Regions from separate parts of the Homo sapiens genome. Here region 1 is linked to region 2. The links come from fine-mapping of genetic effects on gene expression. Tissue or cell type: sun-exposed skin. Region 2 holds a variant in brackets; the other region holds the start of a gene. All regions are shown on one strand. Distances are from middle to middle.

Region 1 (8,000 bases), 130 kb before region 2:
TCTTGAATTGTAGCTCCCATAATCCCCATGTGTCAATGGTAGGACCCGGTGGGAAGTAATTTAATCATGGGGGCAAGTTTTTCCCCTGCTGGTCTCATGATAGTGAATAAATCTCAGGAAATCTGATGGTTTCATAAAGGGCAGTTCCTCCGCACATGCTCTCTCTCTTGCCTTGCTGCCAGGTAAGATGTGTCTTTGCTCCTCCTTTGCCTTCTGTCACGATTGTGAGGCCTCCCCAGCCATGTGGAACTGTGAGTCCACTGAACCTCTTTTTCTTTATAAATTACCCAGTCTTGGCTATTTCTTCACAGTAGTATGAAAATGGACTAATACAGTAAATTGGAACTGAGGTAGTGGGGCTCTGCTATAAGGTTAACAGAAAATGTTGAAGCAACTTTGGAACAGGGTAACAGGCAGAGGTTGGAACAGTTTGGAGGGCTCAGAAGAAGACAGGAAAATGTGGGAAACTCTGGAACTTCCTAGAGACTTGGAGGGCTCAGAAGACAGAAAGATGTAGGAAAGTTTGGAACTTCCTAGAGACTTGTTGAATGGCTTTGATCAGAAGGCTAATAGGGATACGGACAAAGAAGTCCAGGCTGAGGTGGTCTCAGATGGAGATGAGGAACTTGTTGGGAAATGGAATAAAGGTCACTCTTGCTATGCTTTAGCAAAGAGACTGGTGGCATTTTGCCCCTGCCCTAGTTATCTGTGGAACTTTGAACTTTAGAGAGATGATTTAGGGTACCTGAGGGAAGAAATTTCTAAGTGGCAAAGCGTTCAAGAGGAAGCAGAGCATAAAAGGAAAACTTGCAGCCTGATGACGTGATAGAAAAGAAAAACCCATTTTTTGCGGAGAAATTCAAGCCTGCTGCAGAAATTTGCATAAGTAACAAGAAGCCACATGTTAATTACCACGACAATGGGAAAAATGTCTCCAGGGCATGTAAGAGGTCTTCCTGGAAGTCCCTCTCATCACAAGCCAGGAGGCCAAGGAGGAAAAATGGGTTTATGGGCTGGGCCCAGGGCCTTGCTGCTTTGTGCAGTCTCAGGCTGCTCACATGTGATATTGGGACTGTGGGTGCACGGAAGTCAAGAATTGAGGTTTGGGAACCCTGCCTAGATTTCAGAGGATGTATGGAAACACCCGGATGTTCAGGCAGAGGTGTGCTGCAGGGGCAGGGCCCTCATGCACGACCTCTGCTAAGGCAGAAGGGCAATGCAGAAGGGAAATGTGGGGTGGGATCCCCCACACAGAGTCCCCACTGGGGCAGTGCCTAGTGGAGCTGTGAGAAGAGGGCCACCATCCTCCAGACCCCAGGATGGTAGATCCACCAACAGCTTGCAGCATATGCCTGGGAAAGCCAGAGACACTCAATGCCAGCCTGTTAAAGCAGCTGGGAAGGAGGCTGTATCTTGCAAAGCCACAGGGGCAGAGCTGCCCAAGACCATGGCAACCTACCTCTTGTATCAACGTGAACTGGATGTGAGACACGGAGTCAAAGCAGATCATTTTGGAGCTTTAAGATTTGACTGCCCTGCTGGATTTTGGACTTGCATGGGCCCTGTAGTCCCTTCATTTTGGCCTATTTCTCCCATTTGGAATGGGTGTATTTACCCAATGCTTGTACCCCCATTGTATTTAGGAAGTAACTTAACTTGCTTATGATTTTACAAGCTCATAGGCAGAAGGGACTTGCCTTGTCTCAGATGAGACTTTGGACTGTAGACTTTTGAGTTAATGCTGAAATGAGTTAAGACTTTGGGGGACTGCTGGTAAGGCATGATTGCTTTTGAAATGTGAGGACAGGAGATTTTGGAGGGGCCAGGGTGGAATGATATGGTTTGGCTGTGTCCCAACCCAAATCTCATCTTGAATTGTAGCTCCCATAATCCCCAAGTGTCAAGGGAGGGACCTGATGGGAAGTAATTTAATTATGGGATCAGTTACCCTCATGTTGTCATGGTAGTGAGTTCTCACGAGCTCTGATGGTTTTATTTATCTATCTATTTATTTATTTTTATTTTATTTCATTTTATTTTTTGAGACAAAGTCTGGCTCTGTTGCCCAGGCTGGAGTACAGTAGCGTGATCTTGGCTCACTGCAACCTCTGCCTCCCAGGTTCAAGCGATTCTCCTGCCTCAGCCTCCCTAGTAGCTGGTATTACAGGCATGTGCCCCCACACTGAGCTAATTTTGAAACATGGGGTTTTGCCATGTTGGCCAGGCTGGTCTTGAATGCCTGACCTCAGATGATCTGCCTGCCTCGGCCTCCCAAAGTGCTAGGATTACAGGTGTGAGCCACTGCACCTGGCCTCTGATGGTTTTATAAAGGGTAGTTCCTCTGCACATGCTCTCTCACCTGCTGCCATGTAAGATGTGCCTTTGCTCCTTCTTCATCTTCTACCATGATTGTGAGGCTTCCCCAGCCATGTGGAACTGTGAGTCCACTAAGCCTTTTTCTTTAGAAATTATGCAGTCTTGGGTATTTCTTCATAGCAGTATGAAAATGGGTTAATACAAGTAAAGTCTCATCAAAGTGTGGGTATGAAGTTACATCTGGTCATGAATTTGAGGCATAATCATTAATCTTGTCAGACATTATCTTATGTACAGGAAGAGGCAAGGGCTAGGATCACCAAACTTACCTTTTGTAAAAATTCAGTGATTCAGGCAAGAGATGTGCAAACCTATTCCCTATCCTGCTTATGGTCTTCAAGGCATTCTTCCACAAGGCTGCTCACAGTCAATGAGTCAGGGGCTTTGTGAAATATTGCTGGCAAAGGAGCAGAATGAGCAAATGGCTTCTTATCTTTGCTACTTTGTTTCATAATCATCAGCATCCAATAGATATCTGTTGAATTAATGAATACATGGAAGATATTCTGGCAGTGTATTTACTTTCTAGGATTCACGTAACGGAAAACCTAAATTTGACTAAATAGCATGAAACCTCTCACAAAGTGCAATAGCAAAAGAAACAAATAAAAGGAAAAGAGAGACAAGAGAATGGGAAAAGCAATAGCATAAAATATGGCAAAGGCTAATGTTACTTATTTATAAATATATTATTCAAATTCATATGCAAAACATAAATATATAAACAAAGAATTTACATCAGAGGACACAGAGATAGTTTAGAAACACAAGAAAGACATCAGATCTTGATAGTAACCAAAGAATTATAAGTATAGTTACCTAGGGGTAACATTTCATACCAAAGAATTTAAAGGAAAAAAAATGGTATGGTTTGGTGTTGTGTATTCTGATAGTGCTGTAAGCTTGTTCATTTTGGAAAGCAACATCATTTATAGTTATTAAAATGTTTTGGAATATTTTGACCCCAAATTCCTAGTTCAGGAAAATTATACAAACAAAATAATTCAACAGATTTAAAAAGCCAAACACACAAAAGATACTCTTTACAATATTATTTTCATAGTAAAACTTAAAAACTTTGCATTGTGCAGCAGAGGGACAATTACTTTGGCTGAGGCATCAATAATGGATGGAATTTTATCTCACCATTAAATGTTAAAATTGTGAGGAAGCAGCGTGGAAACGTTTATGTCATACTAGATGAAATGCATAAATTAAAACTGAACTCACATAATAAAGAGAATGGTGGACCATACATATACACCAGCTGTGTCTCTTCCAGATAGGCTTTAGTTCCATAATTACAGAAGATACTCAAGAAACAAAAACGTAACTAGCTTCCCATGTTAATCCTTTCACCAGGTAGTAGACCCCAAGCCTCTAAATTGCAGCGCCCACCCACATTTTCCATTTATAGTTTATCCAATTAATCATCTTTTTGTGCCAAAACGCTTGTTCTTCCCACCACATCCAGCTTCATATTTTCAAAGAATTGGCAGCACTCGGCAAAATAAATAAATAAATAAATAAATAAATAAATAAAATAAATAAGGGAACAGAGAAATAAGTTTTTAAAGTTTAAGGAGTTACGGGTTTTCCCTCCACTCACCTTTCAATTTTTTTTCTTAAATGTTATACCTATTTTACAACCTCCAAACTGAAAATGCAGTTAAAAATAAAAAGGTCAATATCCTGCGTCTACCTTGTCCCGGACTCTCGAGCTCCACAAAACCGCAGAGTTCTAAAGCCGGACCAGAGGGCCACCTCGAAGAGGCGCGGATGGTGTCGCAAAAACCCGCAGCGCTACTTTACGGCACTGCCTCCGCCCCTTCAGGTGCGGGAAGTCTGAAGCCGGTAAACATGGCCGTCACCGACAGCCTCAGCCGGGCTGCGACTGTCTTGGCAACTGTGTTGCTCTTGTCCTTCGGCAGCGTGGCCGCTAGTCATATCGAGGTAGGAGTCAGGCTCATTTGACCACAGCCGGGAGGCCGGCTGTGAGCCCTCCAGCAGATGTCCGATACACAGTAGCTGAGGGACGCCTCCTGGAGTCAATCAGCCCCTGACCCAGGCTGGGTTTGAGGAGGGTATCACTGGGCACGGGTTAGGACACTGTTGGTCTGTTTCAGCGTTTTAAAACGATGAATTGAAATAATCAAACCCTCGGAGACAGAGGAGGACCTGATCCTTTGCTCCTACATGTGTGCAGTTCTTAGGTGAAATACGAGCAAGAGGCTCGTGAAATGTCAGTGTGCAGCAACTGCTTTCCTACTACTCAACTGCAGCCCTCTGTTTTGATAGGAGTCAGACGGAACTGGAGAGATGAGGGCAATTTTAAGAATCCAGATAATAGAATTTAGTGATAATTAGAACATGGGATAAATATAAGTGTTTATTAAAACTCTCAAGTTTCTGGCTTAGGGGCAACACGTCTGGGTTAAGAAATGGAAGAGAAAAGGGGTGCTTAGTTTTATCCTGGGCTCCTCCAGCTTCCCATTTTTAAACGTGGACACAGGATGTTCTGGTGCTCTATAATGCTTTTACTATTCACCATACTCTGATGATTCCTCAGTCCCGGTCTACAATCTAGATGTCTGGTATCTTTTTCAGGCCTGCATATCCAGCTGACTAAGAATCCGGGATAGTCAGGAGACATTTGAAAATCCGTGTGCAAAGTTTTATCTTCTGCTTATCCTACCTCCTCTTAAAAAGACACTGAAAAACTAAGCACCCCTTTTCTCCTCCATTTCTCAACCAGATGTGCTGCTCCTAAGCTAGAAACCTGAGAGTCTTAATCTCTTTATCCCATATTCTAATTATCACTAAATTTTGTGATCTGAGTTCTTAAAATTGCCCTCACCTCTCCAGTTCCACTGACTTAATTCAGGCTGTGATCACTTCTTGTCTAGACTCTTGCGATTACTTTATCTTGTTTTCCATAGGCCTCCATACTCCCTGAGTTTGGTGCTAGATTCGTCTACACGAAATGTAAGCCTGATCAGGTTATTCTTCTGATGAAATCTTTTAAATATTTATTAATTGCATACAGAATAAAGTCTAAACGTTATGACCTGGTGCTTGCCTACTTTTCCAGTGTTCCATATTGGAACCTCTTCTCCCCACCACCTGGGCACCTTGAGCTTAGACCAGTGGACTCCAAACTTTTTGAATACACACCCTATCAGTTAAAAAAAGATATTGAGCATGAACTTCATATATATTTATGAATTACTGTTAATTTATATATTTGATGTTTATATAGCATAATTTTTAGAGAACATAAATATGAGTAAATAGAAGTTCTGTTTCCCTCCTTTATTCTAACTTTGACTGCTTCATCTTGGATACTATTACTGTTTTTTGTAGTTACATAATTGCTGTGCTTTTTCACATTACAATATTTTATACATTGTGTTTCCTCTGTTCATGTGCTAAGATACAGTAAAGGCATAACCTCTGTAGAACGTTTCCCTATCTCTTACCTTTGCCTTTACTCTTGTAATTTGTACACTTGATACAGCACTCATTTACTATAACCCGTGTATGGTTTGTACTGTTATTCCATCATATCTCACTTAGAGATAGGAGCAACAGTTTCCTAAATGTTTTGCCTTGAGTCGTTGTTTTTTCCTTTCAATCTGTTCTCCAAATTGAAGCCAGAGTAACTTTTAAAAATGCAGTTCCAATCATGTCACCCAGGGACCTTGATGTTGCTCAAAAGATCACCTTAATGTTGCTCTAAACTCTCCACCATGACCCACAAACAAAAACCCTGCATATTTTTTGGGCCCTGACTACACTTCAAATTTTTTCTTTCTCTTTCAAACTTCTAGTTAGGCTAACTTTCTTTCAGTTTCTCAAAACCTTTAAGCTTTTTCTCACATTAGAGCTGTCTCCCCTCTGTCTGGAATTGTATTTCCTCTTTTCTTCATCTTTTGGATTTTAACCCAACAGTCACTTCTTTAGGAAAACTTTCCTGACCAGGTCAGGTCCCTCTGTTGTACTCTTATTATATTGTGTGTCTTTCCTTATCTGTTAAATGTATATCTATCCAATTAGATAGTAACCTATTTGAAGGCAGTACTATGGCTATTTTTGCCCAGCATTGTATTTGGAGCACTCAGGGCAGTGACTGGCATGTTGCCCAATGAGTGTGATGAATTAATGAATGTAATAATTATAGTGTAATGTGTTTGCATGCTCCTCTTTATTGAACTCTGGATTCTTGAGAGAAAGCAGCATGCTTTTTAGTGATTTTTGTATCACTATATATTAATGGTATCTGGCACATAATAGGTGCTGCATTTACTGTATGTAGAATGAATAACTTTATAATGACTGTATTGTCTAGACAACCACAAAAAAGTTTTGCCATCTAAATTTTTTCACTAAGGTCTGAAAGAAGTAAGAACTTTGGAGGTGGAAGGCACATTAGAGACATGAGGATAGTCAAGTCTAAAGAGCTAAATGACTTACCGCAATTTCACAGCCAGTTGCGAGATAGGACCTAAATTTTAGCTTAGGTCTTTGAATTCCCAAATCAATGCTTAACCACTGTAGCACATTGCTTTCTTTAACATCCAGGCAGCTGTTGAGTTTGGAGGGGGAAAAATACACACACACACACCCCCCCACACACACATGCCACACACACACTTTTTGTTCAGGTTATTATTCTATATTTATCATGTCAATTTATCAGAAACAATGCTTAACAATAGACAACCCATTATAGTTTCATTTAATGTGAAATACTATGTTATTGCCTTGCTAAATTAAGGGTATTTTATCCTAGCCATAGTAATTTCAGAGATCAGTTTTTTCCATCTCTATTGGTAGTTAACGTAAGAATTAACTTGTATTACTACAGCAAATGATATTCTAATGAAAATTGATATTCTTGAGGGTTACATGTACACTCTAAAATCTGTTAATGATATTTCACAAATCTCCAGAAATAGATACTTTACTTTCTGACCAATGTTGTATTCTCTTTAAGCGATGCCTCTCTTTTTGTAATATGTATATTTTAATTGGCACAATAATTGTGCATATTTATGGGGTATATAGTGTGATATTTTCAGACATATTCAATATGAAATGATCAAATCAGAGTAATCAGCATATCTGTCACCTCAAAACTTTATCATTTCTTTGTGTTGATAATATTCAAAATGTTAGAAAAGATTTCTAGGTAGTTGAGAAAATATAATAAATTATTGTTTACTATAGTTACTCTAAAGTGCTATAGAAGGCTAGAACTTATTCCTGCTATCTGTAATTTTGTATCTGTTAACGAATGTCTCTCTGTACTCCCCCCGTCACCTTCCTATTCTTCCCAGCCTCTATTCTACTCTATTTCCATGAGATCAAGTTTTTAAAAATGTCCGTATCTGGGTGATATTGAAATTAAAAAATTTAAATTTCTGTGCCTGACTTATTTCACTTAATGTAATTTCCTCCAGGTTCATCCACGTACCTGTTTATGAAAGGATTTTATTCTTTTTATGGATGAATAATACTCCATTTTATATATACACGTGTGTGCACGCACACACACACATTTGCTTTATCCATTCATCTACTGATAGACACTCAGGTTGATGCTATATCTTGGTTATTGTGAA
Region 2 (9,296 bases):
TGTCACCGCTGTGGATGTATTTCATAACTTTTGATGTATCATGAACCACTCCAAACTTAGTAATTTAAAACATCAGTCATTTATTTAGCTCACAATTCTGCAAGTTGGCAATTTAGGATGAGTTTAGCTGGGCAGTTGTGTTCTCAGTTAGGCTCCGTCATGAGTCTGTGGTGTGGTCAACTTGATTAGTAAGATGGTTTTGCCCTTATAGTTGGCTGGTTATTAGCTGGAGGGAAGCTCGGCTCTTCTGTAGCTGGAAGTGTAGGCTTTTTCTCCTGGTGGTGGAAGAGGTCTGAGAGAGAGCAGAAGCAAGCCAAGCCTCTTGAGGCTAACTTAGAGCTGGGACATTGTTACTTGTGTTGCATTTTGTTGGCCAAAAGAAGTCATAAGACCTGCTGATTCAAAGGATAGGGATATAGATTCTACCTCTTGCTGACAGCTTCTATAAAGTCACGTTGCAGAGGGTATGGACACAGCCAAGAATGGGTAATTAGGGCCATGTTTGCCCATCAATCTAACATACAATTGGATGAATGAAGGACTCGAAGATGTGCTTAGAACACTATGTTCCTTGTAAATGTGGATTTTAATTTTGCTGTTACAAAATTATGTCATCCAGCTCCCTTTTTATTTCAGCCTGTTGTCTTTGTATCATGTATTCTTTTTCTCTTTATATTGTTCTTTCATTTTTGGTTCGTTGTGAATCTTTATTCAAATCCATGCCAGATAAAAATTGTCTAAAATTAATTTTTGGTTCCTTATTAAATTTTTCTCAGGGAGATCTTCTCTGCCTCTTCAGATTATAATTTATTTCTCATGTTTGGGAGGATTTTTCCTCATAGAGCCCACCTCAATTTTTCCTTTTTATTTGGACACTGTTGGTATTTGCCAACAGAGTGTGTGGATGGTTTTCACTATCCACTTAGGTTTAAATGCCTTCTCAAATCTGTATCTGAGGAATAGGTTGTTATATGGTTCCAAGTGACTGGTTCTTAGACCACTCTAAATGTGGCTTAAACTAGGATCATCTGCTACCATGCCACTTATGCCTGTTTTTTGGGGCACTTAAAAAAAGGTGAAGTATATGGAAAAAAACATATTTTTAAAACGTGTACTACTAACAGGGTTTTCCCTGCATTTTCTGGTCTCTGCAGAGCTTTTCCTGTGATACTAAGCCTTCCAGGAAGCAGTGAACCATTGTCAGTGCCCCCCTACCCTTTTGTCATATTGCTTGCTGGGAATTATATTTAAATGGACATATAAAGAGGTGTGCCACTGGGAACTGGGAATGAGTTACACAACTCTGGCTGCCTCATAAAGCCATCTTTCTACTGCATAAGCACTGTGTCTGTTAAACAGCAGGTGGAAAAAGGGAGTGAGCTAAAGTCCCTTACTCAGCTGCAGAAGTATTGTGTTTCACAGAGCAAAGCAAGCCGTTGCATGGTATATACCAAACAGAAAACTAAGCCTACCATTAATTTGTTTCTAATCCTTGTTTCTGGGAAACTGTCAGAGATTTCTCATCAGAGGTTAACTGAATTTTGGTAGGGTGTGCTGTTGTCTTTTTCTGTGCCTTTGTATGGATTATTGTGAGAAGGTGGGAGAGACTGCACTAGGGGATTCTATTCAGATACCTTCTTAAGCTGAGTCCAAAGTGCATTTAGTTCATAATGCATTTTCCATTTTTTATTAATCAAAAAAATGTATTGAACGAACATTAAGAAACATAGCAACTGCAAAGAGCAGTTTTGAAAGGCCAGGATTTGCTGCTTTTGGTAGCTTATGCAGTGTTATCATGTGAATAAGTTTACTGTTCCATTATAATTTTGCAGAAATTACATATATTTCTTAGTCCTCCATTATTACTTTTAAAGTTTGCTGTTGGAGAAATAGCACTTTGATTTTCTCTTTGTTCCTACCCTGGCCATCAGCGGTCTAGATGTGAAACACATACCTGTCAAGGAGGTTGAAAGACCAGAATGAAGTGCCTCCAGAATTCTCCAAGCCAGCCTGTGGAATAATGGGTCAAAATAGCTGCCAGGACTAGTTGTTGAATCTTTGGAAAAATGATAGTTACTTTCAAAGATGCTATTTTTTCCATAGTTGTCTTATCTCTGGCAACTGTTTCTGGCTGCTAAGTTTAAGATTTAATAGTAAAATTACAACCTCAGGGAGTCCATCTCATTGGAAAGTAACTGGAGTTATTACAGCTGCAGAATTAAGATGTGCTATAACTACTTGATTATTGTTTCTATAATCTCTGATGAATGTAGAGCTTGAATGATGTTCACCATTTTTTGAAAAACATGACTTGGTTTAAATGCCTTCTTAAGTCTTTTAGCACTGAAGTTCATTAATTGGATTTATGGAACAATTGTCTATAGCCTGTTCTCCTTAGTTAAGAGTTTACATTGGTGCCAGATTTTGACAATATGTATTTAACTTTTTTACAGTAGTAACCTAATTGTGAGTGTTTTTAAATGCCATATAAATGAGGGACTCCTAGTTGTTAGGGAAAATCAGTATCTGATCTCTCAAACTAGGTCAGTGCTTTTAAACTGGGCTTTCAGGGAATATCTATAGGTTGTATAAAATGTGCTTCCACTAATAATGAATAACGGTAACCTTTTCCCGGTATGTGGAAAAGTAGTTTTAGATCTTAAACATTTTCAACCCTTTTGTGTGAATTACAAATTGTTTGACTAGTAGAAAATAAACAGGACAAAAACTGAGCAGTAGTCTTGTTTAGTTCACTCACTTATTTTTTCATTGACACGTGCTTGTGATATTTATATTACTTATCTTTAATATAGCTTTGCTTTTTATTAATTATTCTAGATTTTCTACTGGAATTGAATTAAGATTTGTCACAGTATTGCACAGAAAGCACTGTAACTTCCAAGAGCTTTGCCATTAGAAATGGTTTGAGAACCACCGAACTTACCGTCTTGTAGGATATTAGAGGGCAAGGACTTTTGCCATTATCATCACACATGTTGAGTGGAAGCCACTGCAGACTCTTAAGTGGAAAATAACATGAGAAAAATTGGATTTAATATTTTGGGATAAATTTTGGGGGAGTTTTCTGGATGGACTGGTAGAGGTTGAGGGTAAGCATAGGAATGAAGATGGAATGTAACCACTTTAAACGTTGGTAGGTCAGTTTATATTAAGCATTTGATTAAAAGCTCTGAAAACTCTAGAATTATGATTCAAGTTAAAATATTGAGGTAGCTTTCTTTCCTTTTAGTTTGAAAAGTTAATTTTGAATTGATGGACATTATACATGATGACTAAAGCAAATTTTAGCTTACTATTTCTCTCCCCTATTGTCTAAAATGTGATTCTAATATCATAACTGTCATTACAGTCTTGGCCAGTAATTCAGTAAGTAGAAAAGAAATCATTGTCACAAACTTCCAATTACAAGGCTGTAATGTAGCTGTTGAAATGACAACTAAATGGAGAAGACTGGTCTTGCTGGACAAAAAAGCATACGTGACACTTGTGGGGTGGGGAATAGAGAAGGGGGATAAAAAATTGACTTAGATGGACTTTGATCCCAGGGAGTGTGCAGGGAGATAAATGATAAAGATAAATATAATAGTGAATAGGAGTAACAATAGAAGGAGTTATAGTTCAGGTACTATGGGAACTCAAAGAAAATAACATATCAGGTGGGAGAGTCTGGAGGAGGCATTTGAGTTAGTGAGTTTTGAATAGGCACAATGAATAGGTTAAGGAGCATTCTACCTCAAGGGAAAAACATGACCCAAGGCACTGGCACTTAAACAAGTGTGTGTTGAATAGCTGAATGGAATTGGGTAGCGTTTGTTCTTCCACTGATTTACTCACTATGATATATGAATGCCTCCTGAATGGCAAGCACCATGGCAGGTTGGTGCTGGGAATATAATAAGATGACCGTCATGAAACTACAGTCTAATAGAGATAGATAAAACCGACAAATTAATGAATATATAAATCCAAAGTGAGAAAGACTGTTAGGCTACTGAGTAACTTGAGTGAGGATAGATGGTATGATTAGGTAGTCAGGGAAGGACTCTTTGAGGAAACAAAATATAAGCTGAAACTGATCTTTGTTAGGAGCCAGTTTACCCTGTAGGATATTTACCCTGTCTGAAGTCTTTACCATTGTTGCTATCCCAATGTGTTTAATTTGACTAACTAGTCCCCATTCAAACACAACCAGTGAAATTTATCTTTTTCATCAATGTTTGCTTTATTGATTGCTGAATTATTTACCTGTTATAAAATTTATCATGTTATTCTTGTTTTGCAGAAACCGAAGCTGAAAGACTGGCATCCTCCTGGGGGCTTTATTCTGGGATTATGGGCACTTATTATCATGGTTTTCTTCAAAACTTATGGAATTAAGCATATGAAGTTCATTTTTTAGA[C/G]TTGATGATGAATGAAGAATGCATGGAGGACTGCAAACTTGGATAATAATTTATGTCATTATATATTTTTAAAAATGTGTTTCTCTTGTATGAATTGGAAATAAGTATAAGGAAACTAAATTTGAATCAACTATTAATTTTATAACTTAAAGAAAAATAATTGTTAATGCAACTGCTTAATGGCACTAAATATATTCCAGTTTTGTATTTTGTGTATTATAAAAGCGAATGAGACAGAGATCAGAATACATTGACTGTTTTTGAAAATAGTAATTTCCCCTTATCCCCTTTTCATTTGGAAAAGAAACAATTGTGAAGACATTAAATTCTCACTAACAGAAGTAACTTTGGTTAATTATTTTTTGTATATCCTCCCAATCTTTTGACTTATGCACATATTTTTTCCCAATATGGAGATCATATGGAATGTACTATTTTGTAATGTCTTTTTTCATTTTACAATGTATTATCAACCTTTTCCCTCTCAAAAATACATTGTGAATGACTGCATAGTATTCACTTTATGAATATTTAATTCATTTCACAGTCTTCTATTGTTGGACCACTTACATTGTACCAAATGTTTTCCTTTGGTTTATTCTTTAATGTATTAATATTTTACTGCTGGTCACTCATGGAATCCTGCAGCTTTAATTAAAAGCAAAGATGAAAAATTGGTTTTTTAATCTATGGCACTGACAATCTCCAGGACCTTATATGTTTGTTGTCAGTTTATTTGGGAAATTTTAGACCTTTGATAATTTCACGTACTGACTGCTCAAGAGAAACATACCCCATTGTTTTTCATTTGTAAGCGTTCTGTGATCTTCTACAATTGGTCACGTCCTCTTCATTTTCCATCTTGAAAGAGAGAGCCAACAAGGACTTTATTTCATTCTGTTTTAGGTAAACCTCCTTGCCCACTGGCTGTATCTATACTTTCCTTGAGAAAAATCCCATAAAGTGGATGGACCTGTGAAGAAAATGTATGCTTATGGCCTAGCCTTCATGTCTGGCTGATGTATCCTATAAGGCAGTAAGCCCCTTTTCTAGTCTCTGGTAAGATGCAAGAGCTCATATCCCCATCACTGACATTTTAGTTTGGAAATAATATTGAGACTGTGCTATGACCAACCCCTGATGTTGTTTTTTCTTTTCAAACTTTTGCATATGAGTAGAGGAAAAGCCTAAAAGTTAAGTATTTATGTCTGGGGGGATACCTTCAGGTGTCTTATCTGTTTTATGCAAGAATTTATGTGTTCATCTTTATTCAGTGCAAAGATTTTTTTTTAAATTTTGTTTATAATTGTAGGTAACATTAAGACAACTCTTCCTCCACAAGAAAACCTCCTAAAATTAATATTCCTTAAGATTTGTTTTTCCTTTTGCACTTATAATATTACCTTTTAATTGCATGCAAGATTGTCATACTTTTCAAAAGGCAAAGGATTGACTGTGTTATCTCCCTAGTTAGAACAAATGATATTGAGGCTTTTTGCCAGCTCTGAATCTTTATTTTAATTGATCTTTTTATTGATGTGTTATATAAATGAGGAAGAAAAATTTTGTCTGATTATGTGAAGGATCTTTCTGTACATGAAAAGAAGGGAAAATAAACTTGCAATTGAATAGACTGATTATAGTAGCACTGAGACACAAAAAGATTGACCATGTTGCCCTCCAGACACTCATACAAGGTCGTGGACACCACGGTGAGGCGGAGCTATTTAGGGTGGTAAAGGAATTATGATTGTTCTTGAGCCAAAGTAATTTAGTTTGAATATAATGAAACATACCCTGTAAAGACTGCTAGAAAGTAAAAGGATTCGTCTTCAGAGGTTGTAGAAGGTGCCCTTCTTAGTTAAAACCAAACTGGGAAAAGTAATACTGGATAAAATATTCAGGATAAATTTTGCCTCAGCAGAATTTCAAAGGGCAGTTGTTCCTCTGTTTCATTATTGAATCTTCAGAATATAGTTAAAGCCAAAAGCTTAAAATATGTTAAATGTTTCACTTATAACCATAATCTTTTTACATAGAGCATACTCTGCCTTCATAATAACTAAATCCTCTGCATGTGGTAGATGAGTACGTTTAGGAAATATTGTCAGTGCAATTAAATGGCCTACACTTTAAACAGTATCATAAAAACAAATCCTTAAATATATTCTACTTGAGTCACAAAAGCTGAACAACAGAAAGGTGTTTTGTTTTTGCCTTTCTCACAGTGTTGTGGTGAGAATCAGATGAGATAGTATTTTGACTAAACACTTCTGAAATTGTAAATATATGGTGGCATTATTGTTCTTATGTCGGCTTAGGAGGATACCAAAGGGGAAGTTAATGGTCACAGTGCACTTATGTAGCTTTCTAAGCTACTCAATGTGATTCTTGTTCTCTTTGCTGTTCTTTTTCTCCTCCCCCATGGTGTCCTTCAGAGAGAAAAGGAATGTAGATAAATGAATCCCTGCAGATGTGTCCTGACATTTCAGGGAGGGACAGGGTATAATGATGCCATCCTGCAAAGGCAGCCTGTGTGAGAAAAAGAAATCAAATAATGTGGATTTTAAAATTACGAAAGACATTCATTTGCAGTTTATGAAAGGAAAATGTAGTTTGGATACAAAGCTGATTAAATTGGATCAAGAAATATTAGAATTAAATGCAAAAAATAATCCATGCATTTATGGTTTTGATTTTTATATATTCCCAGCTAGTTGAAAATGATGATTCCCACAAGAAGCATAACTCAGCTTGTTTCTGCTTACTGAGTATTTTCTACTATGGTATATATTGATAACATTTCTTCCATTATGTATGTTGTATACCAGAGTTACAGTTACTGTGGGAATCATAATTTGAAATTTTGACTCCTGTGTTTCTGGAATCTTTACAACAAATGTTGCATTAACATATAACTTTTTTCAGTTGACTTTACCAAAATTAAGCCCATCTTTAGTAGATACTGTTTTAACATGTGAAAGAAATACGTTATAAACATACCACAAGATATGGCTATAAAACAATGAGATCAGTATCCATTTTTGCTTTAAAGAATTGGCCTTATTGCTTCAGTGTCACATCTCATACTCAAGGGCATTTACTACAAAGAAAGAGTTCTCCAATATTGCTGTTCTGTTGCTGCCTGCCCTATTTACACATGTACCTGCTACTTAAATAGGAAAGCCTTTCAATTCATGGACAATACACCTTGGTGGTAACCAGGCTTTTATTTTTATTTTTTTTTCTTAGTGTAAAAACTGTACTGTTTTGGAAATGTGCTGTGAAATATTAGGTTTAACTGTGTAGATCCTAGAATAAGGGGATTTATATAGATGAAGTTGTAACCAAGAAACTGGTTATTAAAAATTTATTTACTCCAAACATGGAAAGGTGGCAGTGTCATTCTTGTGTCACCTGCACAGTTTGCAGTCTCAGAGACTTCAGAGGACTCTGAGATTTGCCTGCTGAGGTATACCCAGTCATAGGGTCTGCCAGGTGGGAATCACATGATACGACCCACGTTCAGTTTTCTCTCTTTTGACTATGGTAGTGCCAGCTTTGACTGTGCTAGAGTTTCAGGGACGGACATGAGCGAAACTTTCTTAGGGGGGGTCATTTAATAAGGTCATAAATGTAAAGCAAATTGGCTGGGCATGGTGGCTCATACCTGTAATCCCAGCACTTTGGGAGGCAGAGGCGGGTGGATCATGAGTTCAGGAGATTGAGACCATCCTGGCTAACACGGTGAAACCCCATCTCTACTGAAAATACAAAAAATTAGCCGGGCGAGGTGGCGGGTGCCTGTAGTCCCAGCTACTCGGGAGGCTGAGGCAGGAGAATGGCGTGAACCTCCGGGGGGCGGAGCCTGCAGTGAGCCGAGATTGCGCCACTGCACTCCAGCCTGGGCGACAGAGCGAGACTCCGTCTCAAAAAAAAAAAAAAAAAAAAAATGTAAAGCAAATCACACAATGTCTGACATATAGGAAAAGTCAATGTTTTGTTCTTTGCTGGGCAGGACTATCTTGCTTTTAACTTCCACTCAGGCCCAGGGTCTTGTCACTCTTTAGAGAACATTAGCTTTGCTATTCCTAGACTGTCCTTTTCCCATCTGTTTTCAGCAGGCATAAATTTTGGGTAACAGTTTCTTTCGATACTATCCAACGATTTTAATCCATAGACTCTCTTGCCTCCCTTTTCTAGATTTTTCTCCTATTTTAGGTAGATTGAGGCTTTTCTCATCTTCCCTCAGCCTTAGTGTTCCACTGTCTTCTTTTTTCATATTCAGTCCACTCTGTTGGGAACATACCTTTAACATGATTTAAGGGACAGTCTTTCCTCACCCTCAGGTTGCAGATGTCTGGATAATAATCTAGTACTGCAAAACAGTGAGCATTACATTTCCAAGAGAACATATCCCCTACTTTCCCTACCCTTTGTTAGAGCTTTTTTAGTTTCAAATGATAACAACCAAAGTAGAACAAATGTAGGCCAAGAGGGGAATTTGCCAGAAGAATATTAGGATATTTTGTATAATCTTTCAGAAGTGGGGTCAGGTCTGAGCCTCATCAGGCACTGGAGTATCACCTGGACTCACTCTCTCTCTCTGTGTTCCCTTTATTCCTCCTGGAAACTGACTTTCTCACATGATGGATAGAACCTCATATCCCATGCTTCTACCACAAGAGAGAGGTAAATTACTGTCTTCCTTTAATTCCAGTTCTACAAGTCTTATGGAAGAATAGATTAACCTTATTGGCATCACAGGTTCACAGGCCAGAGGGCTAAGGTCTTGTAAGCCCATAAGGACCTCTGGTGGCATACCCCATTAGCACTCCTCCCAGAGAAGGATGGGATCACAGGAGCCAGGCAGTT

What was found. PIP is the estimated chance that this variant, and not a neighbour inherited with it, causes the effect.
Region 1: it holds the start of PIGK, and the variant in region 2 is fine-mapped to the expression of PIGK in sun-exposed skin (GTEx, PIP above 0.99). The same link has a PIP of 0.9 or more in CD4 T cells.

What each region holds. Positions count from the first base shown.
Region 1 is chr1:77,215,639-77,223,638 of GRCh38, reverse strand. PIGK (phosphatidylinositol glycan anchor biosynthesis class K) reads left to right here and starts at 4,209. Exons shown (of 11, transcript NM_005482.3): 1 at 4,209-4,329. The coding sequence starts at 4,237. LOC105378808 (a long non-coding RNA gene) reads right to left here and starts at 4,119. Exons shown (of 3, transcript XR_001738109.2): 1 at 3,986-4,119; 2 at 2,646-2,851. RefSeq lists an enhancer at 4,416-4,525.
Region 2 is chr1:77,087,498-77,096,793 of GRCh38, reverse strand. It overlaps PIGK (phosphatidylinositol glycan anchor biosynthesis class K), which reads left to right. Exons shown (of 11, transcript NM_005482.3): 11 at 4,304-7,805. The coding sequence ends at 4,420. Among named protein-coding and RNA genes, the nearest start is that of MIR7156, 32 kb to the right of the region's middle. The variant C/G (reference allele first, on the strand shown) is at 4,422.